2 separate regions of the Homo sapiens genome follow, and region 1 is linked to region 2. Evidence: fine-mapped expression QTL. A gene starts in region 2. The other region holds a variant in brackets. All regions are shown on one strand. Distances are between the middles of the regions.

Region 1 (5,395 bases), 400 kb after region 2:
CTTTATTCTAAGTGCCTTTGTTTCACTGAAAGCATCTTCATTCTGTTGTTTTTTGAGTCATATGTTTTGACACCCCAAAAACTGCATTGAGTGTGGGCCCCATCTAGTGACAGAGCGTGCATACTTCCTTTTCAGTTCTGAGTCTAAGGAACTATTTTTATTGTCTCATGAAAATGCCTTGGCTTAAAAATAGCCTGCCTCCTAAGGAAAGAATCTTTCTTTCTCGTATGTTATTAGCCAATGCAGAGCCAAAAGAAGACCAAGTGGTAGGGATGATACACAGGTCTGTGGACAAGCTCTTGAATTCAAGGTCAGCCTCTCCACAATTCCCGTCTTAGCTCTGGATGCATGGTAATAATTTGGGCAGCACATGCTGGCTGACCAGGTGGTGCCCTAAAATTTGTGAGCTTAGGGCCTCATGAATGCTTTTGAAACAGGAAACATTGATCTAACTATTAATGTATTACAGGGCTATAAAGCCCCGCCCTTTTTATTTATTTATTTATTTTTTCATTGCTTTTTCTGATTCTTTACTTCTGTTGCACTAGCTTATTAGGGCCTGAGACCTACCACCAGCGTATGCTGGCGATCTCCTCTCCCTTCAGTAGGTGTACTAGGCATAGTTAAAAATTAAAATCAAACTAAGCATATGTACCCTGAAGCTGCCTGTGCTGGCTAATGACCTGTACCTTTACTGAGGCCAGTGCAGCTGGTATTAACTGGCCACACCCTGTGCAATCAGAATCTGCAATAAATGTCTGTGTGGCTAACAGGTCATTTAAGGCCCGTGAGCTTGCATGTTTGCTGAGATATATTTAGCCTCTGCACCATTGCTAGGACCAGCTTTGATTCTTGTGTGTTCACCAAGGTCTAGCATTTCTATTCTATAGAGACAGCTCATTGCCTGTAGATAAGATCACTGTGTCCTGCCATGAATGATGATGTCTATATCCCATATTTATTAAGGTTTAGAAGTGTTCCTTGAGGACACAGCATTTAAAATTAAATCACACTTTCATTTCCAGAACATCTTCCAAAAGTGCAGGATTTGGAATTTTAAATGTTTATTGCCATACAGCTAAAAGACAGGTTGATGATGCCAAAGCACTGATAGGTGTAAATGTCTTGCTTGAGTTGACCTTAGAGAGGCTTCTAAAGTGGTTGAAAAGCTTTCAGAATAGTAATCTTAGCCCTGCAATCTTAGATAGGTGCGAACTTTTGGTTTTCAGTCTGATATAAGAACCTAGTGAATGGCTAAAATGTGTTAAAATTGTCTTTAAAAATGTTCCGTGATATTTTTTTCTTTCCTTTTAGTGTTTGGAGGTTGTAATTGCCAAAGCAGTATAATGTAGTCACCTGGTTTTTTGTTGCAGTCTACTCTTTAGCGTCTCTTGCAGAATGTTACTTGTGATGTGCCTACTTATTATTATTGAATATAAGTCTCTTCATAATCCTTTTGAACAAATAAAGTCCGAAAGAAGCTATTTCTTAATTTTAGAGATATTAAATAACTAGCTTAATTTATAAAGCAATGTTTGAAATTATGTGAGTTGTTTACCTTCAACACCATATATAACCAAAATTTACCAATCATTATTTCTAAGTAGTGTTTTTCAAACTCTCCACAGAATATTTTTTAGTATATTTCAGTGAAATAACTTTTCAATATTCATGGACATTGTTTTAATTTCTATAAAACACTGATTGCTATAAATTTTCATGATTTATGGTGTTATTTAGAATCTAAGATTTTTTTTAGAACTTATTGATGAAATTTAGAATGTCAGTTTAGACTATTAGAAATTTCCCAATGTGGGAAAAAATAAAAATAGAATCACTCTCTATTATCTTTTCTCCAAGTATCTACTGGACATTCTACTGAATGGATAAGAGCCCTTTTGAATTCAGCATTTCTCAAACTGAGCAACCTGACCTCCCACTTACACCCCTAATCTTGCTCCATCCAAAGACTTCTCTATCTCAGTTGTCAGAAATGCCAAAGTTCTACTTTCTCAAGCTAAAAGCTTGCATCATCCTGGACTCCTCTACTTCATGTACTCCCCACACTGAATTCATTAGGAAATCCTATTGATGTTACAGTAAAAATATATGAAGAATGTGACCACTCATCACCTTCACTGCTTTGACTCCCATCCCGCTTCTTACTGGATGACTGCAGTGGCCTTCTAACTGGTTTCTCTACTTTTCCCCCTTTTCCTTAAGTAATCTTCTTAATATAGCACCTGGAATGATAACTTTTCTTAAAACGTAAGATGGATCCTGTTCCTACTCTGTTTAAAACCTACAAACAGCTCAGCATTTTGCTGAGAATAAAAGCCAAAGTTCTTACACTGTCCAAAGGGACATTGTATGATGGATGCCTTCTTCCTCTCTGACTCCTCCTTTACTACTCTCTCCCTCCCCACTCTGGTCTCCCGACACCAGCATATTTGCTGTCCTTTGAATATACCACACACCCAGCTGCCCTGGGGCTTTGCACTCATTGCTCCATCCACCGGTGTGGTCTTCCCTAACGTGTCAGGAGGGCTCACTCTTCATTCATCTCAAGTCTTTGCTCAAGCATCCTTCTGGTGATTCCCCTTAATAGAGCAGCCTGCTCTCCTCTTCTCACTCAGCACCACCGATCCTTCTTATCTGGCTCTACTTCATCTCTTTTTCTTCTCACGTCTCTAGAATCGATATAATAGGCTTATTTATTATGTTTATTACTTAGCATCTGTCACTTCCTATAAGAATGTATACAAGGCCTGGGGTCGTTGTCTGTTTTGTTAGCAACGTATCATGCTCAACACATGGTAGGTACACAATTATTGAACAAATGAATGATATAAGTAAGATTTCATATGAATATTTACATATTTATATACATACCTATAAATCACTTAAGGTATACTTAAAATTATCTTGTATGAGTACACAATAAATTCTTCAATTAATTCCTTACTATGGAGCAATAATATGCTTTAGGTTCCCATTATTTTAATCTTTAATGAACAAGCATGTATGTAAATATTTTTATAGATTCTCATTTATAGAAAAAGTACCTTGGGTAGTTTTACAATGTCCCAATTAACCACGTGTTATATCCCATTTTAAGAGATTAAATTATATGTCATATTCATTTAAGTAACATAATGGAAAAAATTGTACTAGACTAGGAACAGTAAAACTTTTCAGATATGCTACTCTTTACATCTGGGTAAGTTATTTAAAATTCTTGAGCTTGTTTTTCTCGACTTTTAAAATAATATACACTTTATCATCTATGTCATTTGTTTATAGGGTTAAATACAAAAACATAAGGCTTATTGTTTTAGGAACTGTAAGACTCTA[T/G]TGAAGTGTAGTTTTACCATATTAAGTTACCCTCAAACTCTGAGTTGTAATTACCCTTCAGACTCTTGTCTTTTATGGTAACTTTCAGAATTTTTTAATGTTTATAGATTCAGGGAGTACATGTGCAGGTATGTTACATGGATATACTGCAGGATGATCAGGTTTGGGCTTCTAGTGTACCCATCACCTGAATAGTGAACACTGTACCCAATAGGAAATTTTTCAACCCTTATTCTCTCCCTCCCTCCCCACTTTTAGCATCCCTAGTGTCTATTATTTTCTTTGGTATGTCCATGTGTACCCACTGTTTAGCTCCCCCCGTAAGTGAGAACATGTGATATTTGTCTATATCTTGAATTATTTCACTTGGAATAATGGCCTCCCGCTCCATCCATGTAGCTGAGAAAGACATGATTTATTCTTTTCATGACTGTGTAGTATTCCATAGTGTATGCGTACCACATTTTCTCTATCCAATAATCTGTTGATGAACTCTTAGGTTAATTACATGACTTTGCTATTGTGAATAGTGCTGTGATACACATATTAGTGCAGGTGACTTTTTGATATAACAATTTTTTTTCTGTGGATAGATACTCAGGATTGCTGAGTTGAATGGTAGTTACATTTTTATTTCTTTAAGAAATTTACATACTGCTTTCCATAGAGGTTGTACTTTACATTTCCACAAACAGTGAATAAGCATTCCCTTTTCTCTGCATCCTTGCTAATATTTGTTGTTTTTTTGACTTTTTAGTAATAACCATTCTGACTGGTGTGGGAGAGTATCTCATTGTGGTTTAAACTTGCATTTCTCTGAAAAAAAATTTGCATTTCTCTGAAAATTAGTGAGGATGAGCATTTTTTCATACGTTTGTTGGCTGCTTGTCTGTCTTTTAAGAATTGTCTGTTCATGTCCTTTCCTACCTTTTAATGGGGTGTTTTTGTCTTGTGGAGTTTTTTGAGTTATTTATAGATTCTGAATATGAAGGCATAGTTTGCAAATATTTTCTCCCATTCTGTGGATTGTCTATATACTCTGTTGATTATTTCTTTTGCTATGTCGAAGCTCTTTAGTTTAATTAAGTCCCATTTGTCTATTTTTGTTTTTTGTTGCATGTGATTTGGGGATTTTAGTCATGATTATTTACCTAGGCCAATGTCCAGATAATTTTTCCTAGGTTTTCTTCTAGGATTTTTATAGTTTCAGGTCTTACATTTAAGTCTCCACCCCATCTGAGTTAATTTTTGTATATGGTGAGAGATAGGGGTCAAGCTCATTCTGCATATGACTATCCCATTTTCCCAGCACCATTCATTGAATAGAATGTTCTTTCCCCATTCTATATTTTCGTTGACTTTGTTAAAGATCAGTTGGTTGTAAGTATGTGGTTTTATTTCTGGGTTCTCTATTCTGTTTTATTCATCTATGTGTCTATTTTTATACAAGTACCATGCTGTTTTGCTTATCATAGCCTTACAGAGCCAGTAATAAGAAATCTCCCAACAACAATAACAAAAAATGCCTACAACCAGACAGATTCATAGTCAAATTTTACCAAACACACAAAAAAGAGCTGGCACCAATCTTACTAAAACTATTTCAGAAAATCAAAGAGGAGGGATTTCTCCCTAACTCATTCTGTGAAAGCAATATCATCCTGATATCAAAATCAGGCAAGGGCACAACAATAAAAAAAAAGAAAACTGTAGGCTAATATCCCAGATGAACATAGATGCAAAAATTTTTAACAGAATACTAGCAAACTGAATCCAACATATAAGAAAAAGATAATACATCATGATCAAGGGATTGTTATCCCAAGGATATGAGGGTAGTTCAACATACGCAAATCAATAAATGTGAGTCACCATATAAACAAAATTAAAAATAAAAAACCATAGGTCATTTCAATAAACGCAGAAAAAGCATTCTATAAAATCTAACATCCCTTTAGGATAAAAATGCTCAACAAACTAGGTATAGAAGAATACACCTCAAAATAATAAAAGCCATATATGACAAACCAACAGTCAACAT
Region 2 (5,395 bases):
TTCTAGCTTTTTCTGTCAACTGGCTTTTGACTCATTTAGCTTGTATTAGTCTATTCTCACACTGCTGTAAAGAACAATCTGAGATTGAGTAATCTGTAAAGAAAAGAGTTTTAGTTGCCTCATAGTTCTGCAGGCTGTACAGGAATAATTGCTAGGGAGGCCTCAAGTAACTTTCAATCACTGCAGAAGGGGAAACAGGTGTGCCTTACATGACCAGAGCAGGAGGACGAGACAGAAGAGGGAGGTGCTACACACTTTTAAACAACCAATCTCTTGAGAACTCACTCACTATCAGGAGAACAGCAAGAGGGCAATCTACCCCCATGATCCAATCATCTCCCACGAGGCCCCTCCTCCAACACTGGGGATTTCAATTTGACATGAGATTTGGGCCAGGACGCAAATCCAACCATGTCATAGCCTAATGGGAAGTACTGTTGGGAGACTGGTGGGCAGGAAGAAGGGAGAAGCCATAGTACTTCCCTTTCTTCCCTCTCTGCCATGGGTATTATTTCTGGCTTTGATTGGCTTTGCTCCATGGGAAATACTCTTGCTAGACAAGCCAATGGTGGTTCTAACTTTTCCTAGATGACCATAGCCCCTGGGCCCTACTAATACAACCTTCTCCATTTGTCCCTACAATTTAACAATGGTAGTGGCTTCCTATTGGTACTAATCTCTAGATTACCTCTTTGTTCCTGCTTGGTTTTTTACTTCTCCCATCATCTATGTAACAACTTTTTTCTTGTATAAAATTGCTTCTGCTTTAAAAAGTTAGAAATAATTTTGTTTTGCTCATTGAAATGCACACACACACTTTTGCAGCCAGTAAAAACAACGAAGAAAAGGCTGTACCTGTATAATCATATACTAAAAAAGAAATGTTCCTGGTAAGTTATTGACTCCAAGAAGGAACTTGCTGTATCTTATGTTTGATAAGGTCCATTGCAAAATCGAACCATTATGTGTATATAGAAACGTATTTGTATAGTAATAATGATAATAACTATCCCTTTTAGGAAAAAACAGATATGGCAAAAAAAAAAAAAAAAAAAAACCCCACCAAGAGGATATGTTATCCCTATGAAGTGAAGTGCAAGGTGTGCATATATTGAGAAGAAAGGATGCTGCCACTTTTGACTTTATATACAGCTATATTGTTTGTATTTTTTTCTCTTGTATCACATTGTTAATTTCCAAAATTGTTTTGAAAGCAGGTAATAAAACAGTATGCCTACTATGATCATTTTTATTAAATTTTTTTTTGTTTTTGTGACAGAGTCTTGCTCTGTCCCCCAGCCTGGAGTGCAATGGCAAAATCTCCACTCTCTGCAACCTCCACCTCTTGGGTTCAAGCAATTCTCCTGCCTCAGCCTCCCGAATAGCTGGGACTACAGGTGCCCATCACCACACCCAGCTAATTTTTGTATTTTTAGTAGACACGGGGTTTTGCCATGTTGGCCAGGCTGATCTCAAACACCTGACCTCAGGTGATCAGCCCGTCTCGGCCTCCCAAAGTACTGGCTGGGATTACAGGTGTGAGCCACCACGCCCAGACACCTTTATTAAAAATTAATGTCCATATGTACTTATTGGTAATGGGAATGGTCTGAAAGGACAGTCAATTCTGCTATAACATGTGCTTTGAGATTAAATTTGTTCCAATGTGATTAATATACCAGAAAATAATTTGAGCATACTGCCTATGCTCATGTGTGATTTTATTTTCAGTGAAAAAGAGTAGTTGAACTTTAAAAAACTGAACTGAAAAACAGAAAGGCTTAGGATGCACAAAATACACCCACCACTTATAGTAACACCCTCACTTCACCTGTGTGTTGTGAGCCTTGACACCCATATGTCATATTGCAACTTTCTGTCTGATTTCAGATAACCCACATTTCAACAAGCTAAAGTAACTTGCAGTTTGCAAATCTTCCAATGCCTAATTTCCAAAACAAGTTTCAGGTCTTTTTCAAGGTAAAGCATCATATTTATTTTAGTATTTATGTATATCTTAACCATGTAACGTGTGAAAGTGTGCTACCATTTTTATTAGGCTCTCATCCTTTTTTTCTTGTTCCTTGTGGGTCATTATGAAGTTTTTGAGTATTTTACCCTAATCACATTTTTTCTCACAAGTCCCGTGGTTTTTATTGCACAATTTTGTACAGTATAGTGATTTTTAGGAATGGATATATCACATTATAGCAAAACTGACCATACATGTACCAAAATGTTAATAGCGTTTTGGGCAGCTTATTATTGCTTATCTATAGTTTCTATATTTTTCTAAAACAATCGTGCATTGATACTTTAATTAGATCTATGTAAACATCTTTAAATGATGAAATGGCAGCTAAAGGATGATTACAGCTGTTTTGGGTAAAGAGCTGAGGCTATTCTGGCAAGCTCCACATATTCACTGGTAATGTAATAAATTAAGTGCCTTCTAATCTACTTAAAAGGTACAATCACTTAAGCTCTTTCTGTAAAACAGAAACAGGTCTCACAGCAACATCTTGGCACCTTCTTTAATCAGAAAGTTCCCATAAGTACTAAGAAGAATAGAGAAGATGTGACTAGCCAATTTTCCATTAAATAATGTAGATTATGTAATAAGCCAAATGCCCCTAAACTGGTTGCAAACATTCAGAAGTGGTAATAACATGATTCAGATACAGAAATATAGATAGGCAATAAGGAGCCAGATATTCAGTGCTTACTGACTTTCAAGCTATTATTAAGTAGCTCGCCTATACACAGTCTCTGTAGGAAATAAAGAAACTACAAGCTTGAACACATTGTAAATTTCTAAATGAGGAGAAAAAAAGGTTTTTCTATGTGACTTGATGCTTGAATTTCTATCCAGTTTTTCAGAGTGAACATATACCTGCGTTATCACTTTTTTCTTTCCGAGACACTATTATGATGTTTTTTCTCTTCTTTTTTAAGTAGTAACTTGCTCCACCTACAGTCAAACTGCACTGTATGACTTTGATTTGGGTATGAGTCCTCTTTTCCCTCCCCCACATGCCCTGTTTCTGGCCCAGCGCCCACTGAACTCTGTACTTGTTCTTGATCCTTGTATTTTCCTGTCTCTCTACACAGAATCGGCTGTTGAGTGTGCTCTCAGTGGAGCTTTGGTTTTAGCTGTTCTCTGACAAAGAGCTTGTTCTGAGCTGCACATCTCGTCCTCTTTGTTCAGCCTCAGGCTTCAAGCATTGAATCCTAAATATTCTCCAGCTGGGAATCAGACAAGGGCAGAAATGAAGAACCCAGAAGCCCAGCAGGATGTTTCAGTTTCCCAGGGATTTCGCATGTTGTTTTACACGATGAAACCCAGTGAAACTTCATTCCAAACATTAGAAGAGGTGCCTGATTATGTAAAAAAGGTGAGACTTTATTGGAAGAGGCTACTCTTATTCTTGCTGCTTTCTTAATAAATGGTAAGGTCAATCTCCTTAGGGTTTTGTTCACTTTCATTATTCAAATGATTACATTCTAATAATAATAATTCAGTTTCTTAAAGGCGTGAAGCAAAAGTAGAATTTCCACTTGAATTTTCTTACAATCCATAGCCATCTTCACCTGTAAATTCCCTCTTTTATATGTCACTCCAGAATATGACAAAAACAAAAGTTTAAAGTTTTCCTGGACTCCATGGCATTGTAAATGTAGCTATTGGAAGCTCAATGACAAATAGTTACACCACATCAGTAAACTTTGTAACAATTTCATTTTTAAATCTTTCACTTGTCCACCCCTTCCAGGGAAACTATTTCCTCTTTCATTTGGTAGAGTAGTTCAGCAGAATGAAGGATATGCAGCTTGACCAGGTCCAGCTCTGACTTCCTAAGTTTGAATTTGACCCAAGTTTTCTTTGAAACTCTGAAGTGCTCAGAGGCACATTTCACTTCTGGTTCCTGGCTATGATTGGAAGTGGAAATATCCAGAATTAGAACTTGAATACTGAAGTTCCCCACCCTATCAAAGTTATTCCTACAACACTCACTAGTTCATGGCAGAAATAGAAAAAAAATGACATCATAGAATATGTTATTGAGAGTTCAGTTTAGAAAGCTTCAAAACTCATGATTAGCTTCCAAATGAGTAAAATCCGTATCTTTTTCAAGATTAGATATTACACTTTCTTTCTGAGTTTTTAAGTTAAAAAAAGTGGCACTGATATCTTCATAAATTATTATTGTTTATACTGCAATATCAAACCAAATTCAATGCTCCATCACCAATAGTGGAGCTTTCAAAACATCTCTTATTATGTGAAACAAAAATCAAAACCAAATGAATAAAATCTGAATCATGTTTTAAGCAAACATGTAAAATTACCATATTCTCTAAAATTCTAAGCAGAAAATTGTCTCTACTCTTTGAATTTCATCATTAGAAATAGTTCTGGTAAGTCTAATATGAAAAATTAGAATTATGTGCATCTTTAAGGAAAGCCTCTTGAAGTGGGTCTAAATTATACATGTAGAGACAATAGACCTCTAATTATCTACCTTATTCTAAATGTATTTTTTAAACTAATTTGGAAGATGTTCCTCTTAATCTTATAATATTATAATTATCGTGGTTATATCTATGATTACATTTCATATTCAAATTGGATGATAGAATTTGAGCACATGTTTAGTGTATGTCTAAAATAATTAGACTTCTTTACCACTGTGTAGGAAGTAATCCTCTAAAATGAGTGTCTACCATCTCCTGCAGGGCTTCCCAAATCTGGGCCTTTCAATTCTGAAATGACTAATCAGGAAATGTAAAATAATTTCATATGGAACATAATAGCATCTCTTTTCTGCAACTTCCTTTCCAGGCAACTCCATTTTTCATTTCTTTGATGCTGCTTGAACTTGTTGTCAGCTGGATTCTCAAAGGAAAGCCACCAGGTCGCCTGGATGATGCTTTAACGTCAATCTCAGCTGGTGTTCTGTCTCGACTTCCAAGGTGAGTTAGATGGTCAACAACGCTGAGCATAAAAACTGAAATTGCCTAAGTATGAGGGGCAAAGGAACCCAATGCATGGGAGAATTAGTTTATTTACACAAATTTTCCCAAAAAATTCAGTTCATGTCATTATTTAAAATTTTGATATTTTGTTCTTCATTGATTTTTTGCACTTATTTAAAAAATCACCGCAAACATTATTTATCTTGACTCTGTTGATATCCCTTTGAAATGAGTGCTTCATTTGCCTTATTGAGGTTCCAACTCTGAGTTATGGTCTGGTTCTCTATTAAAATTGTGTTTTGTCTCTTCCAGCTTCAGAAAGAATAGCTGTCTCGGGTGTAGCCATTCCCTAGAGCAGGTCACACAAATCTCTGAATAACTACAATAGTTTGCTAATTGGTGTCTGGCTCTAGTACAA

Alleles and levels. Alleles are on the strand shown, and positions count from the first base shown. SD is a standard deviation of normalised expression in the study named.
In carriers of allele T in region 1, the expression in prefrontal cortex of the gene that starts at base 3,100 in region 2 tends to be higher than with G alone (small effect, 0.32 SD a copy in GTEx).

The links. PIP is the estimated chance that this variant, and not a neighbour inherited with it, causes the effect.
Region 1: its variant is the best candidate, but not a certain one, in a credible set for the expression of AGMO in prefrontal cortex (GTEx, PIP 0.77).

The regions. Positions count from the first base shown.
Region 1 is chr7:15,163,442-15,168,836 of GRCh38, reverse strand. It overlaps a transcript of AGMO not described here. Among named protein-coding and RNA genes, the nearest start is that of DGKB, 260 kb to the right of the region's middle. The variant T/G (reference allele first, on the strand shown) is at 3,355.
Region 2 is chr7:15,559,720-15,565,114 of GRCh38, reverse strand. AGMO (alkylglycerol monooxygenase) reads left to right here and starts at 3,100. Exons shown (of 13, transcript NM_001004320.2): 1 at 3,100-3,395; 2 at 4,844-4,974. The coding sequence starts at 3,270. LOC124901591 (a long non-coding RNA gene) reads right to left here. Exons shown (of 3, transcript XR_007060217.1): 3 at 4,915-5,019.